Linked DNA regions of Homo sapiens. Each later gene encodes a partner of the first gene's protein in a complex. Each region holds a gene or a part of one and is shown on either strand. Other genes may lie near its edges.

The links. Proteins that work in one complex are often made in the same cells at the same time.
Region 2: the proteins of BNIP5 (region 1) and BAK1 are in contact, whole or in part, in a crystal structure (PDB 8IGC), measured with the Homo sapiens proteins. Residues at the interface, in NP_001010903.3 of Homo sapiens: Ile246, Ile247, Gln248, Met249, Ile250, Val251, Leu253, Leu254, Lys255, Arg256, Val257, Gly258, Asp259, Gln260, Trp261, Glu262, Glu264, Gln265, Ser266; in NP_001179.1 of Homo sapiens: Leu78, Ile81, Gly82, Ile85, Tyr89, Glu92, Phe93, Met96, His99, Leu100, Tyr110, Lys113, Ile114, Ser117, Leu118, Ser121, Asn124, Trp125, Gly126, Arg127, Val129, Ala130, Phe134, Ala180, Leu183.

Annotation. Positions count from the first base shown.
Region 1 is NC_000006.12:36,335,119-36,339,061, forward strand, and holds the start of BNIP5 (protein BNIP5), read right to left. Parts: upstream 1,771-3,943; 5' UTR 1,594-1,770; intron 1,558-1,593; exon of another isoform or gene 532-1,557; intron 1-531.
Region 2 is NC_000006.12:33,578,513-33,582,112, forward strand, and holds the start of BAK1 (bcl-2 homologous antagonist/killer), read right to left. Parts: upstream 1,765-3,600; 5' UTR 1,513-1,764; intron 1-1,512. UniProt on the Homo sapiens protein: Plays a role in the mitochondrial apoptotic process. Upon arrival of cell death signals, promotes mitochondrial outer membrane (MOM) permeabilization by oligomerizing to form pores within the MOM.

The DNA.
Region 1 (3,943 bases):
AGCTGACCCTGGAACGGGAAGTTTGCTTGCCTTCCCCAAGCTTGCTGCTGTGTGTTGTTTACTTTCTAAGTTGCACGGTGACCTCATCTCTATGCTGTTCTCTAATTTGTTCACCTGGCCGCGTTACTCTCTAACTGCTCTGGTGCCTTTCATGGAGATAACTTCGCGGCTCCCCTTCTCCACCCCATGATTCACACAATAGAAACTTCACAGAGAGCCAACCTGCTGCACACCCACAGCAGCACCCTGAGGGACAGAGTGTGTGGCACACACACGTGGACCCACAGTCAACACCACAGACATCCACGTGTCACCAGAACACACTTGTGCACACCACAGACCAACATGGACTCAAGACGCCCTGTATTTCTCCTGTCCCAAGTGTAAGGGAATAATTATGTGACCAAGCTCACCGCTTGCCATCGGTCCTAACTCTAAATTCCATGAGAGGGGACCTGAGCCTGGGAGGCTCTCAGTGTTTGTGAAACAAACAAATGATACACAGGCATGTGCAAACCCAAACCAGCTCACCTTCATGCAGCCACACGGCGTCCAGAGAGCCGTTTCATTGACATGATCTCATTTCATCTTTGCCAGGAGCAGTGAATCAGATGGGCTAACAGTGGGGCACTGAGGCTCCGGACCATTAAGAGACACGCCCAAGGTCACATAGCCGGGAAGCAGAGAGCTGAGACTCTCCCACTTCTCCCGATTCAAATCCTACATTCTCTATTCTACACCAAATGGCCTCATGTAAGCATAGATACACATGCACGCACTTACACATGGACTTAGGGGAGAAACCTGCTATTTCACACTGATGGAGGTAATCACAGTCACATACACACCTACCATGACCTATGCACATGGAGTCACACAATCACGTGTGCCTAGGTATAGACACCCATGCCCTCCCCACCCCATTCTGTCCTCTATCCAAGACCACGGGCAATGCAACACTGTGTGAGGAGTCGGTCAGGACTGTGGGTTATAATCCACCTCCCAGCCTCTACATTCCCATCCAAGAGAGCAGTAGACCATGAGTTATTTTAATAAGATTTCCCCATTCTTGGACTAACTTCCAAAAACCTTAAAACTCATAGAACCTTAATTTAACCATAGGTCATAATAACACCTCTCATTTATCAGGGGGTTCCCTCATGTACCTTCACATAAAGTCTATAACTTGACCTCTACCACATCCTGAGGGAAACTAGCAGGTGAGCTATGTAATGCTGCCCCATCCTACAGACAAGAAAACTGAGGCCCAAGGAAGTGAAGTTCCTTGCTCAGGGTGGCGGCTAATAAGCAGGATTGGGACTTGAATACAGAGTTTTAAGTCCGAGTGAGCCCAGAGCCCTTTGAGAAACACCCCGTTGAGATAATGTCATTGAACCTTGCTCCCTCTTTTTAGAGATAAGAAAACTGATCCCCCACCTCCACCCCCATTGCCTCTCTGGGAGGGCCCAGCATGCTGGAAGCAGCATTGGGACTGGACTCTTGGTTTGACACCCAGGACTAAACTCTTCTCCGGACCCCAAGATACATACCCACTGCTCCCGCCCCCAAAGGAGAGGGTATTGTTCAACCAACCTTGGACCACAGAAATCGCTTCTGTCCTGAACACCCTGGGCTGGGATCTTCAGACAAGAGGTCTCTGTGTTAGGCTCTGCTCCCTGTCAGCTGGAAGTTGTGTCCAGTGAGAAGTCAGACCCAGCTCTCCCAGGGAGAAGATGCCACTACTTTGGTGCTGGCAATTTTCTGAGTGTCTCAGAAGATGCTTTGGCCGTCCATATATACAGTATCTCCCAGGAACTGAGCTCATGGCAGCCAATCCAGAGAGCCATGGGCTGGCTCACCTTCCTCCACCTGTTACCACCCATCCCAGGACTGCTCCCCGCTCCTCCAATGATAAGAGGCTTAGCTCAGCTACCCTGGAAAAAACAGTTTCACTTGTCAACTTCCTTATTGCACCCAAACCCCAGTAAGAAACCAAAGCTCAGAAAATAACCTAAGGTCTGGCTGGGGAAAACCCCACCTGTAGAGTTGAAAACAAGACTTAATGGGAAATGCAGGTTAGGGGGAGAAAGTCGAGGTGGCTTTATTGCCTTTACAACATCCCTCAGTTATCTTTGAAGATTAGTGGGGAGGGAGGTACCTAGAAAGAAAGGTCAGCGATGGGATACATACATCCCTTGACCTGGAGACAACCCAGAAGGAAGAGCCCACAAGAGCCACGTGTTCCAGATCTGCTATGCCCGGGAAGGGTTGCCATGGATCTTGAGAGAACATTCTAAGAAGTCTTAAAAAGTCAGATTTCCACTTTCTGTAATGCCTTATTTTAAAAAATAGAGTGTAAATACATGTTTATAATCAGAAAAGAAAAACATGTTTTATTAAAATGAAAGCAAAGGCCGGGCACGGTGGCTCACACCTGTAATCCCAGCAATTTGGGAGGCTGAGGCAGGCGGATCACCTGAGGTCAGGAGTTCGAGACCAGCCTGGCCAACATGGCGAAACTCCATCTCTACTAAAAATACAAAAATTAGCCAGGTATGGTGGCAGACACTTGTAATCCCAGCTACTTGGAAGGCTGAGGCAGGAAAATCACTTGAACCCAGGAGGCAGAAGTTGTAGTGAGCTGAGATCGTGCCACTGCACTCCAGCCTGGGTGACAGAGTGAGACTCTGTCTCAAAAAAAAAAAAAAAAAAAAAAAGAAAAAAAAAGAAAAAAATATTAAGAAATTCTGTTTTGGTTCATTAACACAGGGAGGCATCACAAAATATATATGGAAGCACCAAACTTTGGAGTCAGCCCCATCTGGAGACACCTGCCAGCTGTGTAACCACAGCAGGGGACATGATGTCACTGAGCTTGTGCTCACTTATAAAACAAGTAGTCATCTCAGAGGGTAGTTGGGCCAAATGCGATAATGCTTACAAAGAAAAGAAGAAGGCCAGGCATGGTGGCTCACATCTGTAATCCCAGCACTGTGGGAGACCAAGGTAGGAGGATTGCTTGAGCCCAGAAGTTCAAGACCAGCCTGGACAACATAGTGAGATCTTATCTCTACTAAAAATTTTAAAAATTAGCCAGGCATGGTGGCACATGCCTGTAGTCTCAGCTACTCAGGAGGCTGAGGCAGGAGGATTGCTTGAGCCCAGGAGGTCAAGGCTGCAGTGAGCCATGATCGTGCTACTGCACTCCAGCCTAGGCAACAGAGTGAGATCCTGTCTCAAAGGAAAAAAGAAGAAAGGAAGGAAAGGAAGGAAAAAAAGAAGGAAAGAAAGGAAGAAAGGGAGGGAGGGAGGGAGGAAGGAAGGAAGGAAGGAAGGAAGGAAGGAAGGAAAAAGAAAGAAAGAAAGAAACAAAGAAAGAGAAGGAAAGGAAGGAAGAAAGAGAAGGAAAGGAAGGAAGGAAATGTATGGAGTGCCAGACATCTTTCTTTCTGTGTATTAACAGTGCCTGGTACTTGTAAGGGCTCAATAAAGGGCCAATGTTTTATTACGGGCAACAGAGTTATTAATGCTTCATTCATTCTGTCAACAGGTTTTGGATCCAGCTATGTGACAGACACTGTCTCAGCACTAAATTTAGAATTTATTAGTCCAAGAAGTCACTCAGCCTTCAAACAAATGTTAAATAATATTACATATTTTTCATTTATTTAATGAAACTATTGTGTCAACCACTTCTTCCAGGCCCTGTGTGTATTGTATGTGTTCTTTCTTATTCCAAGGTGAATATGCCCAGCCTGGCCCAGCCCTCATGGAGTCCATAAAGTAGTTGGGAAGAGAGAAACACACAGAGAAAAATCATACAAGCAAGCAGAAGGGAATAGGAAGTTGTTTAATGCGTACAGAGTTTCAGTTTGAGAGGAATGTGGTACCACTACCTCCACCATTCAACCATCTCCACAACTTTTGAGATGTGGAGGATTTT
Region 2 (3,600 bases), 2.8 Mb from region 1:
GCAACTTTCCCTATTTACCTCCTGTCTGTGCCTTCCCCACTGCTGCCTTGCAGTGACCGGAGGGAGCCCTCAGGATCAGGGCCTTCTTTGAAGCCCCATAACCTGCCTCGTACTCCCACCACACACCTGGTCTTCTGTCCCCGGCCCCAATTTTCCTCTTTGCCTGGTCCTGACCGCAGCCCCAACCTGCTGTGACCCCTCATCAGGGCGAGTGTTTCCTGGATGTCAGCTGTTTCACTTTCAGTTTGCACCCCTCCCAGAGCCCCATTTCCCCAGGCAGCCTCCAGCCCTCAGAAGGAGAGCGCCCTCCTCCTATCCCAGAGGGAGGGGGTGTGCAGCCCCACCCTGGGCCAAGCACACAGCCCCACCCCCACCGCCCAGGGCCTGGGGACCTTCGCCCACCCTCCTTCCGCTAGGCCTGGGAGTGTTTTCGAAAGTGCCCCAAGAGCTCTCAAGAAGGGGTGGAGGAGGGCTGGACCACCTGTGCCCTCACCCAGCTCCCCACTCCTCCTCGATCTGCCGGACAGGGACAGGGTGAAGGCAGACCTTCCTCTCCTCCACCTCTAGGGGCAAGGCCTTGTTAAAACAGAACTTTGCAGCCGGGCATAGTGGCCCACGAGGTCAGAAGTTCAAGACCAGCTTGGCCAACATAATGAAACCCCATCTCTACTAAAAATACAAAAATTAGCTGGGCATGGTGGCGTGCGCCTGTAGTCCCAGCTACTCGGGAGGCTGAGGCAGGAGAATCGCTTGAACCTTGGAGGCGGAGGTTGCGGTCAGCCGAGATTGCGCCACTGCACTCCAGCCTGGGCAACAGAGCGAGACTCCATTTCAAAAAACAAAAAAAAAGAGTTTTGCTTGCCTCCCACCCCCCGTAGCTCCTTACATAAGATGGCCTTCCTTCTTCCCCAGTCTCCAGGACCCGGCACCCCCAGGACAGTAGGGCTGGAGGATGCTGACTGCACCTCCAACTCCCTCTACCAACACCCCAGGCTTCCGAGGGGAGCAGGTAGAGCCTCAGAACACCCACCAAGGCCAGCAACCTATGCTGACTCAGGCCTAGCTCTGCCTCCCCCATCCAAGTGGCCTAAATTCCCGGTGAGGGGAGCCACCCCCGACTTCCTGGGCTTGCTGGGCCCCGATGAATGTTGCCCAGGGATACATGCCTGGCCAGGCCCTGGACCCAGTCTAGGGATGTTGGGCAGCAGCAAGCGCTGAGAAAGTTCTCTCTCTGCCCTTGACCTTGGCTCTGACCTCCACTCCCATCTCCCAGACTGTTAAAGGACCCAGTTCTTACAGTTCTCCGGCATCCAGGGCTGGGCCAAGAGGGGAAGCTGTGAGGGGCAGCCAGAGGCAGGCATGGCAGGATCAGGTCCCCAGCCGGGGCGGCAGACCTGCCCAGGGAAGCCTTGAGCTTCCCCTTCCCCACCCGGCTCCCGGCAGGCTCCCTGCCCCACCCTGGGGCTGGGGCTGCTGAGATCTGGGAGGATGGACAAGACCCTTCCAGCTTACCTGCCGGGATCCTGGCCCAACCCGGGTGGCTCAGCAGGGTGGAGATGGAGGTCCCGAGGGGCTGGCGGCTGCTGCTCCCAGGGGCTGAGTGGGAGCCCAGTTTCCAGGAATGGGCGTCAGTGCATTCCCGGCATCTGGATGTAGCCTTTACTTGTCCCTGTGCAGCCCGAGGGACCCGCGAGACTCCAGTGATCATAGAGGTGCCAGCGGCACCCGGCTCCAATCAGCTCCCTCTAGAGGAAGTTGCTCTGTGGCCACCGGATGCAGACGCACAGGCCGACAGCCTGTAGGGTGATCTGGGTGGGCCAGGCCCAGGAGCATGTCCCGCCCACTTTCCCCACCCCACCTCCCAGGCAGGCAGGGCGGCTGTCAGTGGCCCACTGCTTTTCCCATCCCTGATTCTCAATCCTTGTCTTTGATCTTCTCCCCCACCTCTACATCAATCAATACCAATAAAAAACCCAGGGTGAGAAGTTTCTTAAGCACTGCTGCATGCCTGGCACTTTAGCAACTATTTGTCTCATTGGATCTTCTCAGCAACTCTTGTAAGTGAGTGCTGTTGACAATACCCATTCAGATGAACAGAGGCTCAGCTGGGTTAATCATCAGTTCTGGGCCAGGCGCGGTGGCTCACGCCTATAATCCCAGCACCTTGGGAGGCTGAGGCAGGCAGATCACGAGGTCAAGAGATCGAGACCATTCTGGCTAACATGGTGAAACCCCGTCTCTACTAAAAATACAAAAAATTAGCTGGGTGTGGTGGCGGGCGCCTGTAATCCCAGCTAGTTGGAAGGCTGAGGCAGGAGAATCCCTTGAACCTGGGAGGTGGAGGTTGCAGTAAACCAGGATTGCGCCATTGCACTCCAGCCCTGGTGACAGTGCAAGACTCCATCTCAAAAAAAATAAATAGTAATAATCAGTTCTGTAGTCGCATTGGGGAATACTAATACTAGATTGAGATTCAACCTGCAATTTAGACCTGTGCACCATGCACCTTGGTGGTCTCTGGATGTTTGAAATCCTGAAGGTGATAGTCAAGTAAACGGAGATTAAAACTCAATAGAGGCTGGGCCCAGTGGCTCACGCCTGTAATCCCAACACTTTGGAAGGCTGAGGTGGGAGGATTGCTTGAGCCCAGGAGTTCAAGACCAGCCTGGGCAACAAAGTGAGACCATGTCTCTACAAAAAAAAATTAGAAATTAGCTGGGTATGGTAGTGCACACCTGTGCATTTGGTGGTCCCAGCTACCTAGGAGGCTGAGGCAGGAGGATCACCTGAGCACAGGAAGTCGAGGCCACAGTGAGCCATGTTTGCACCACTGCATTCCGCCCTGGGCAACAGAGCAAGACCTTGTCTCAACAACAACAAAAAAGGCAGCCAGCTGCGGTGTGTCACGCCTAGAATCCCATCCCAGCCATTTGGGAGGCCAAGGCAAGAGGATCGCTTGAGGCCAGGTGCAGGAGTTCCAGGCCAGCCTGGGCAACAGCAATACCCTGCTTATACCAAAAAAAAAAAAAAAAAAAAAAAAAATTAGCAAGGCATGGTGTTGTATGCCTGTGGTCTTAGCTACTGGGGAGGCTGAGGTGGGAGGATTGCTTGAGCCCAGGAGGTCGAGGCTGCAGTAAGCTATGATTGCACCAGGGCAACAGAGGGAGAGTCTGTCTCTAGAAAAAAAAAAAAAAAAAAAAAAAAGGCCGGGCACGGTGGCTCACGCCTGTAATCCCATCCCAGCACTTTGGGAGCCCGAGGCAGGCAGATCACCTGAGGTCAGGAGTTCAAGACCAGCTTGCCTAACATGGCGAAACCCCGTCTCTTTTAAAAATACACAAAAGGGAGGCCAAGGCAGGTGGATCACCTGAGGTCAGGAGATTGAGACCATCCTGGCTAACATGGTGAAACCCCGTCTCTACTAAAAATACAAAAAAATTAGCCGGGCATGGTGGCAGGCGCCTGTAGTCCCAGCTACATGGGAGGCTGAGGCAGGAGAATGGCGTGAACTCAGGAGGCAGAGCTTGCAGTGAGCCGAGATCACGCCACTGCACTCCAGCCTGGGTGACAGAATGAGACTCCGTCTCAAAAAAAAAAAAA